Homo sapiens: one gene and its partner. The protein of the gene in region 2 purifies or fractionates together with the protein of the main gene of each other region. This does not show direct contact. Each region holds a gene or a part of one and is shown on either strand. Other genes may lie near its edges. The genes, in order: ITM2B and PPP1R3F.

What was found.
Region 1: the proteins of PPP1R3F (region 2) and ITM2B purify together in Homo sapiens (co-immunoprecipitation; one large-scale study listed by IntAct). This does not show direct contact.

Annotation. Positions count from the first base shown.
Region 1 is NC_000013.11:48,264,023-48,267,668, forward strand, and holds part of ITM2B (integral membrane protein 2B), read left to right. Parts: 3' UTR 1-3,646. UniProt on the Homo sapiens protein: Plays a regulatory role in the processing of the amyloid-beta A4 precursor protein (APP) and acts as an inhibitor of the amyloid-beta peptide aggregation and fibrils deposition. Plays a role in the induction of neurite outgrowth.
Region 2 is NC_000023.11:49,276,269-49,280,088, forward strand, and holds part of PPP1R3F (protein phosphatase 1 regulatory subunit 3F), read left to right. Parts: exon of another isoform or gene 1-1,126; coding exon of another isoform or gene 1,127-1,260; intron 1,261-3,820.

The DNA of each region.
Region 1 (3,646 bases), on a different chromosome or scaffold from region 2:
TGCATTGGTTTAAAAAAAAAGTACAGAAGTCAAGATGAGACTATATAAATCTTGACAAGTTGTTGGCCGTGATTGCTCTTTTGTGATGCAGGAGTGAGAATCTGGAGAATCTGGCTTAAGAGGTGGCTGAGAATTAAAATAATAGGCATGAAAATGCTTCATACAGCTCTGTACAGTTGTTGACAGTGCCTTTTTTGAAACCTATCACTGCTATATGTTAGCAAGCAAACACTGATCTTGTTTTGTAATGTGTAATTGTTCACTTCTGCTTTCCCTGTATCCCTTTTTAGATTCCACACCCATATTAGTGAGAAGCAAGAAAAAAAAATGTACACAGTGTCCTAAATGTTGTTTATCTCGAATAATAGAAGTAGGAGTGTAAAACTTAAAGGCTGATTAATAATGCAAATGAAAAGGCAAATGGATTATTGAATAGAAAAGGTCTAGATTCTATGTTTGAATGTGGTTATGAATTAATATGGGCAGAATCTCTAAGATTCTGCTAAGTGAACATTTAGTAGTTTACTAGACATCTTCTCTTCCACCTAGCAAAGAGTTTGTTGCCCAGAGTTATATAAATCCTACTCTATTGCACACTAATCTTTGCATGTTTAACTCTTTGGGACTTAGGTTCCTAGATAAGGACTTCATGTGTATCTATTTAGAAAAAGAACATTTCTTCATTTCCACAAAGCTACACAGCCATCAGTTCGTTCAATATCTTGTCCAAAGTTATTGCTAGCGTTCTTCTTTCTGAGTCTTTGTGGCTAATGCTTTTTTGAGGAAGAAGCATGATTTAGTCTCAGCTCTCTATTGATCATTTTAGGCTTTTATCTTACTGAAAAAATTAAGCACAATTTAAGATTTTTTTTGAAATATTTACTGAATTTTGAGGCCATAAATTATTTCCTGATAGCACACATGTATGGGTTGTAGATTCCACACTTTTAATCTTCCAGCCACCTATTGCAGATTGGTTCTGAGAAGCAGGATGAGTGGGAGTGGGCTTAGGGGTCAAAATTGAGACCTAAGTGGTATAAAACAAGATAATCCTAGCTTCCTCCCACTTAAAATAATTTGATGGGACTTCTGTATCTGATTTTTAAGCTTGCATTTGTGTTTATATTTTCATTGTAAAAATATCAAATAATACAGTTTTTGAAGGTAAAAAGTAAATGTTCCCGCCCTTCTACCATCCTCCTTCCTCAGTCCCATTCCCCAACAGTTTAACGTGCGATACAATAATGTGTGACACAAAATGACCTAGTTCTTGCCCTAGTGACTAAGCAGATGCAAACGCCTTCTTCTTTCCAAACAGTGTGGTCTTATCCCCGTCGCAAATGGAGGATATTTAAGAAACCCAAGCCAGAAACCCCACAGTCTTCACAGTCACTGTGTCCTCCACCTCCTAGCAGCTTCCTGCTGTTCTGCTCTAGTGGTTCTCTCTGCTTCCCCACACCCACCCGTAAGCCACAACAATCTTTCCAAAACACGAACTTGATGGTTTCATTGTCACACCCCAGCTTAAAACACTTTCCTGGCTTCCCCTGGTTCTTAGGATAAAGACCAAAATACTTAATGCTGCACAGTCCAGTCCCAACCCACTCTCCAGCTTCATCTTAATCACACCCCTCTTTGCTCCTAGTGTCCTACCACATTGCCTGACTTACTGTTTCTTGGTAAATGCTATTCTTACTTCCTGAAGATTATTTCCATCTCCTCACCCGACACCCTTCAGTTAGCTTCCACTCAACCTTCAGAATTTAGTTCAGGTGACCCTTCCTCAAGAGAAGATTTTCCTGAACCATTAGGAAAGGCTTCTCTTGTTTCTCAGTCTCATAGCATCATCTGTCTCTTTTTTGTGACTTGAATATAATTAATATTTTATATTTTGTCCTTGTTGCTTGTTTGGTTAATAGATTTCCACCACTAGACTGCTCAATACGTTAGTAGGGCACCTGACACATAGTTGCAGCTCTTATTTATTGAATGAATGAATGATTCCTTCCCGTACCACCCTAGTCTTGCCCACTGTCATTTTTATTCTGGGTATTATATTTCCCAACCAGTTGTCTGACTTTCTCCTCAGATCTCATCCCCATGGGTCTGAGTGAGTTGCCTTGAATATAAGATTCAGTGATGGTGTCCTGCTGCACTTAAGAGAAAATCCTTTTTTCAAGCCCTAAAATCCTGCCCTCACTAGACTTCTCTCACCATTTCTCTGTTTGCATCCTAGCCTTTTAGTTTTGGCCTCATATAAGCTTGCAGCCCTGCCTGAAACAGTTGTCTCTGTCCCCACTCTACCCCCTGCCCTCCACAAAGAAAAGTTAACTCTTACTCATCTTTCAGATCTCAGACTAAAAGTTTCCTCAGAGATGCCACCATAGCTCTCTATTTCTCATACCTTTCATGATACTTCATCACCTGTCTTCATGAAGTCCTCCTCTAGACTATTAGCAAAATGCTCATACTGTGTCCTCAGTATTTGGCACATAATAGGTTTTCTTGACACTGAAGGAAGGAATAAACATCTGGTAACTATAGCTAGAAAAAAAGGAAATACGGTATCTACTTCACTAAAACCAAAGGGGGTTTTTTTGGGCAGACAATCTTCATTATTCAGATGGAAATTAATGTTTGTTGAATGAATGAGCTACATTTCATGGATTAACTCCATGAAATGGAGTTCAGCTAGTAAGGGTTATACTTTGAGGCTATTTCATCTTGATGGGCTTGTTGTTCAAAGTTAGAGCCTCATTTTAAGTAAAATGTTCTGTGGGGGCCATATTAAGATTTTCATATGACAGAAGTGTATATATATCCACAAATGTTTCAAGCCAAGATTATGTCTTCTTCCATAATGCCACCTTCTTCTAGGATAGTATTTTTGGGCCAGATGGTTTTCCACATTTAAAACATACCAACATTCTTTTAAGGCCCAGTGATTATCAAAAGGGATTGGCACTACATTTTAAAATGTAGGGGGGATTTTTGATTGTCACAGGACTAGAGGATGCCATTTGTATTTAGTAGATGAGGCCAGGCAGGATGCTAAATGTCTTAAAAGTCCGGGAGTCCTGCACAAAAAATTACTGCCCTTCTTGATTTGCCAATTATGCCCCTGCTGGGAAGCATGAAAGGAGAGAGAAGAGCTTTCAGAATGTCAGGGATAAATATATCCATTAAGCCTTCAGACTAAGATGCAGGAATAGTTTTCCATTTGGGTATGAATACGGCAAGTTCTTAGAACATTTCTTAAAACATAATTAGCCAAATACTAGTGTAACAGCTACAACTTATCTAGTTTTAATCAACTCCAGGGAACATTACACTTTATTTAACCCCTAATTATCTGATAACCCAAGTTCTGTCAGAAACACTGCTGAGGCATCCAGGAAGATGAGCCTGTGAAATTTGAGAATCCTTCATGTCTCTGGAATGAGTCCCTAGATTCTAGCCCTGCAGCTAGCTGACACTCTAAAAAATTATGAGTGCCTTCCTTTAGCTCCCCATAGAAATGTCTTTGTATAACCATGGCATGATATTATTCTCTTGACTTTTGTTGAGGATTGATAGAAATAAAAATGAGCCAGAAATGTTTCTTCAGCTTTTGTAAAGTGCTGTTAAAAGCATTATGTCATATCTA
Region 2 (3,820 bases):
GGGGTTACTGTTAAGTGCTTTATAGGTACTTTTCAAATATTTCTTTGATCTGCTGAACAACTCACTGATGTAGGTATTATTATCCCCTCCTTAGAGATGAGGTAACTGAGGCACAGAGAGGTTAAGTAACTTGCCCCAGGTCACACAGCTGATAGGTGGCAGAGCTGGAATTGTTCAAAATTGCATATCCTAACCCTTTATTGAGTTGTGAAATCAATTTACTGGGTTTCAACAAGCATTAAAAAGAAAAAGGAAATAGCATAAGAAATGCCAGTGTATCACCACATGCAGTAAAGGTAAGTATTGTTTCACTCGAAGAACAACCATTTTTCAGTTATTTATATGTCTGTTTACACGTGTGGGTGTGCTGGGTTATGATGTAGAATGGATTTCTTACTATGGGTCGTGGCCAAAGAATGAAGTCATGGCTGTTGAAGAAGCTCATGGCACGAGAAACTGCTCTCCCTCTACCCCACTGGATCACCCGCAAGTCCCAGAGTTGAGGCTGACACACTTGTTGGGGAAGGCAAAGCAGTGCCCCACATAACTTGGTGGCTTTCACAGCCACCTTCAAACCCTGTTCTTTTCAGAAAGCAGATGGCTCAGGGTAACTGCAATTCTGAGTATCGTGGGGCAGGTTTCTGAAGCCACTCATCCCCCCGGAAAGTCAGCGTTATCTTCAGGTTGACTACATGGGAGCCGGGGTCTGCTGAGTTTCCCTTTGGGTTTCAGTGCCTGACCCACTTTGGGCTGGCAAAATTCTTTGAAAACATGAATGCTGGGGGTGCTCCAGAGGACTCGGGTGGTGGTGGCAATGGCAGTCTGTGACTGCTCTGAAAGTCTGCTTTGCTTTTCTCCACAGGGCTTGTCAGCCCTCACCCGCTCGCTTACTCTGTGACTGGCGAATCACCTTTCTTGGCTTTCTTGGCTGGCCTAGGCCGGGGCCAACACCACCTCTTTCCAAATCCTCACCCTCTGGTCTCCTCGGGGCCTATCAGCTTGGCAGCCATTGTGTTTCCTGATGGCCGGAGGAATTTGCACGCCCAGGAGACTGGCGTGCAGGCCTGAGATGGCCCCTTTTAGTCGACACCAGCTTGACTAGTGCTCACTAGCACCCAAATGATGCATGTCCAAGATTTTCCAGATCTGTGTGCCCTGGCCCCTATGGCTCACTGCCCTTGAGGGGATGCCACGTGGTACTTGTGGGGCTGGTGCCAAAAGAACAGGTTTCCTTCTTGAAAACGAGCAGGCATACTGCAGGTACAGTTTTGTTCTTAATCTTCTCCCTCCCCATTTTTCTAAGAACCCCTCTTCTCTGTTACCGATCAGTGAGTCAGTATACATTTGTACTTGATTTCTCTTACTATCCTCATGTTGATTGAAGTCATAGCTGCCCTTGAGTTTTTACTGTGAAAGACGGTTCAAAGATAACTTGTTTCTTTTTAAGCCCACAATTTCAAACTCTCTTCAAAGTGGAGCCCTCCTGGAGTGTTTGTTACCAGCGTGGTTGTGTAGTCAGTGAGTGTAGAGATGCAGTTCCTTGAGTTTTAGTTTTTGCATTTGTAAAAAGGAAGGGTGTTGTTTTGAAGGATAGATGTGAAGGTTTTCAAATGCCTTGGTGTGTCAATGAGAGGGGCCCATGGTGGAGGAGGTGAACAATACATGCTTGTGCTTTCTGCTTTCATATCTGACTTTGGAGAACGACTTGTTTGCTTCTGTCGATGTTGTGGATCTTGGGATTGGCTCAATGGCGTGACCTGCTTTTTGGATGTTCTCGCCCTCCTCAGCCATGGAAAGGGTGCTCTGGGGGCTGAAGGATTGATTGTGTATTTGTTTTTCTTTCTCCTTCCTCCAACTGAATTGTGGAGTCCTTTACCTGCTGGCTAGCTGATTCCTGAGTGTTCTCCTTTTTCTGTCTCACATCTATGACTGCAGTGGCTTTTAGAAGCCTGTTTGTAATATATGTCCGGACTAGGCCAGATGGAGGAGAAGGCTTGCCTGCTACTGCGCACAGGTGGGAGGGCTGGCTTTCTGTCTGTCTGTGGGCCTTCTTGAAGAGGCTTGGTTTAGAAGATCCTAGGAGGAGGATGTTTTCTGTCATGAAGGACTATGGTAACAAAAAGAAGTAAGTTAGTGCAGCCTGGCAGAAATTGTGTTGAAACAAAAGTCCAAAGACCTGGATTTTAGGACCACGGAGGGGATTGGTGTGAGACCAAGCTGGTTTGCTCTGAATCTCTCTTTCTCATCTGTGATGTGTGGGAGGTGGCAGCTGGGCTCCCAGAGTCACCCACCCTAGGCCCTGTAGTATTCTGATTCAAGTACCTCTGGTGGGATTTGTGAGTCCTAGACAGTAGAGAAAGACAGACGGTCCCTTCTAGACTCTAGATCCGTATATATGGTTCAAATGTTCTCCCCGAGGGTGTTTATAGAAAGCAGTTCTTGCAGCCATTCTGTGTCTAGTGGCCTCCTAGCCACGCATGTCCCAGGCCCATGGAGGTAGGGAAATGGGGAATGAATATGTGGGCAAAGGCAGGTCCAAAGAAAAGCCTGCATGAAGGAGGAGGGAGGGATCTTGTCTAGTATTGATGCCTCCCTCTATCTACTTCTAGAAAGGATGGAGATGGGTTGGGTAAGACCCCAGTCTCCCTCATCCAAGAAGCAGCAGCTGACTGGGTAAGAGCCAAAAGGCCTGGGTTGTGATGTGAAGTGTATGACCTTGAGCCATTTACTCAGCCTCTGTTTTATCCTCTGTAAAATGGAGACAATAGTACTGCCTGCTTCAGAGGATTACAAGTACCTGTCTCATAGGGTGATTGTGAGGATTGAATTAACACATGTTGCCCAGGCACCGTGGCTCATGCCTGTAGTACTAGGACTTCGGGAGGCTGAGATGGGAGGATCGCTTGAGTCCAGGAGTTCACGACCAGCCTGGTCAACGTAGGAAGACCCCATCTCTAAAAACAAAATACAAAAAAACAAAAACAAAAACCAAAAAACCCCAAAAACTTCTTTAAAAAAATGTGAAGCACTTAGAACAGTGTGTAATGCCATAGTAGGTACTATGTATGGGTCAGATGGTGATACTCGTTTCTGTGAAGGTAATTGGTTATGGGTTTTCAAAAAGTTTCAACCAGGCCGGGCACGGTGGCTCATGCCTGTAACCCCAGCACATTGGGAGGCCGAGGAGGGTGGATCACCTGAGGTCAGGAGTTTGAGACCAGCCTGGCCAACATGGCGAAACCCCGTCTCTATTAAAAATACAAAAATTAGCTGGCTGTGATGGTGGGTACCTGTAATCCCTGATACTTGAGAGGCTGAGGCAGGAGAATCACTTGAACCTGGGAGGCAGAGGTTGCAGTGAGCCGAGATCATGCTATTGCACTCCAGCCTGGCGACAGAACGAGACTCCATCTCAAAAAAAAAAATTTTTCAACCATTGTCAGAAGTATCAAGAATGTCACATTGCCTCTTAGGAAGAAAAAGGTGTGGGCATTCGCCCCAGCTCCTCTCAGGTTTTAGTCAATGCTTCCCTCATTTACCTTAATCTGTAGACACTTGATACTCATTTTCAGAATAAGAACAGTGACTTCTCCATGATGAGATGCCACCCCTGGGAGGACCCACCTGAAATGCACTCGGCTTATGCCACTCAGGGATCTGACTGGCCTGGTGAAGGAGGAGCAAGACCCATAAATATCTACAGTTGATTCAATCCCAGCTGTGTGTCAGGCCCTGATTTCTGGCTGTCCATCCTCATTCCTCTTGACTGCCCTGTGCTTAGTGCACATCCTGACTCCCCGGGGCTCTGTTTTATGAGTGA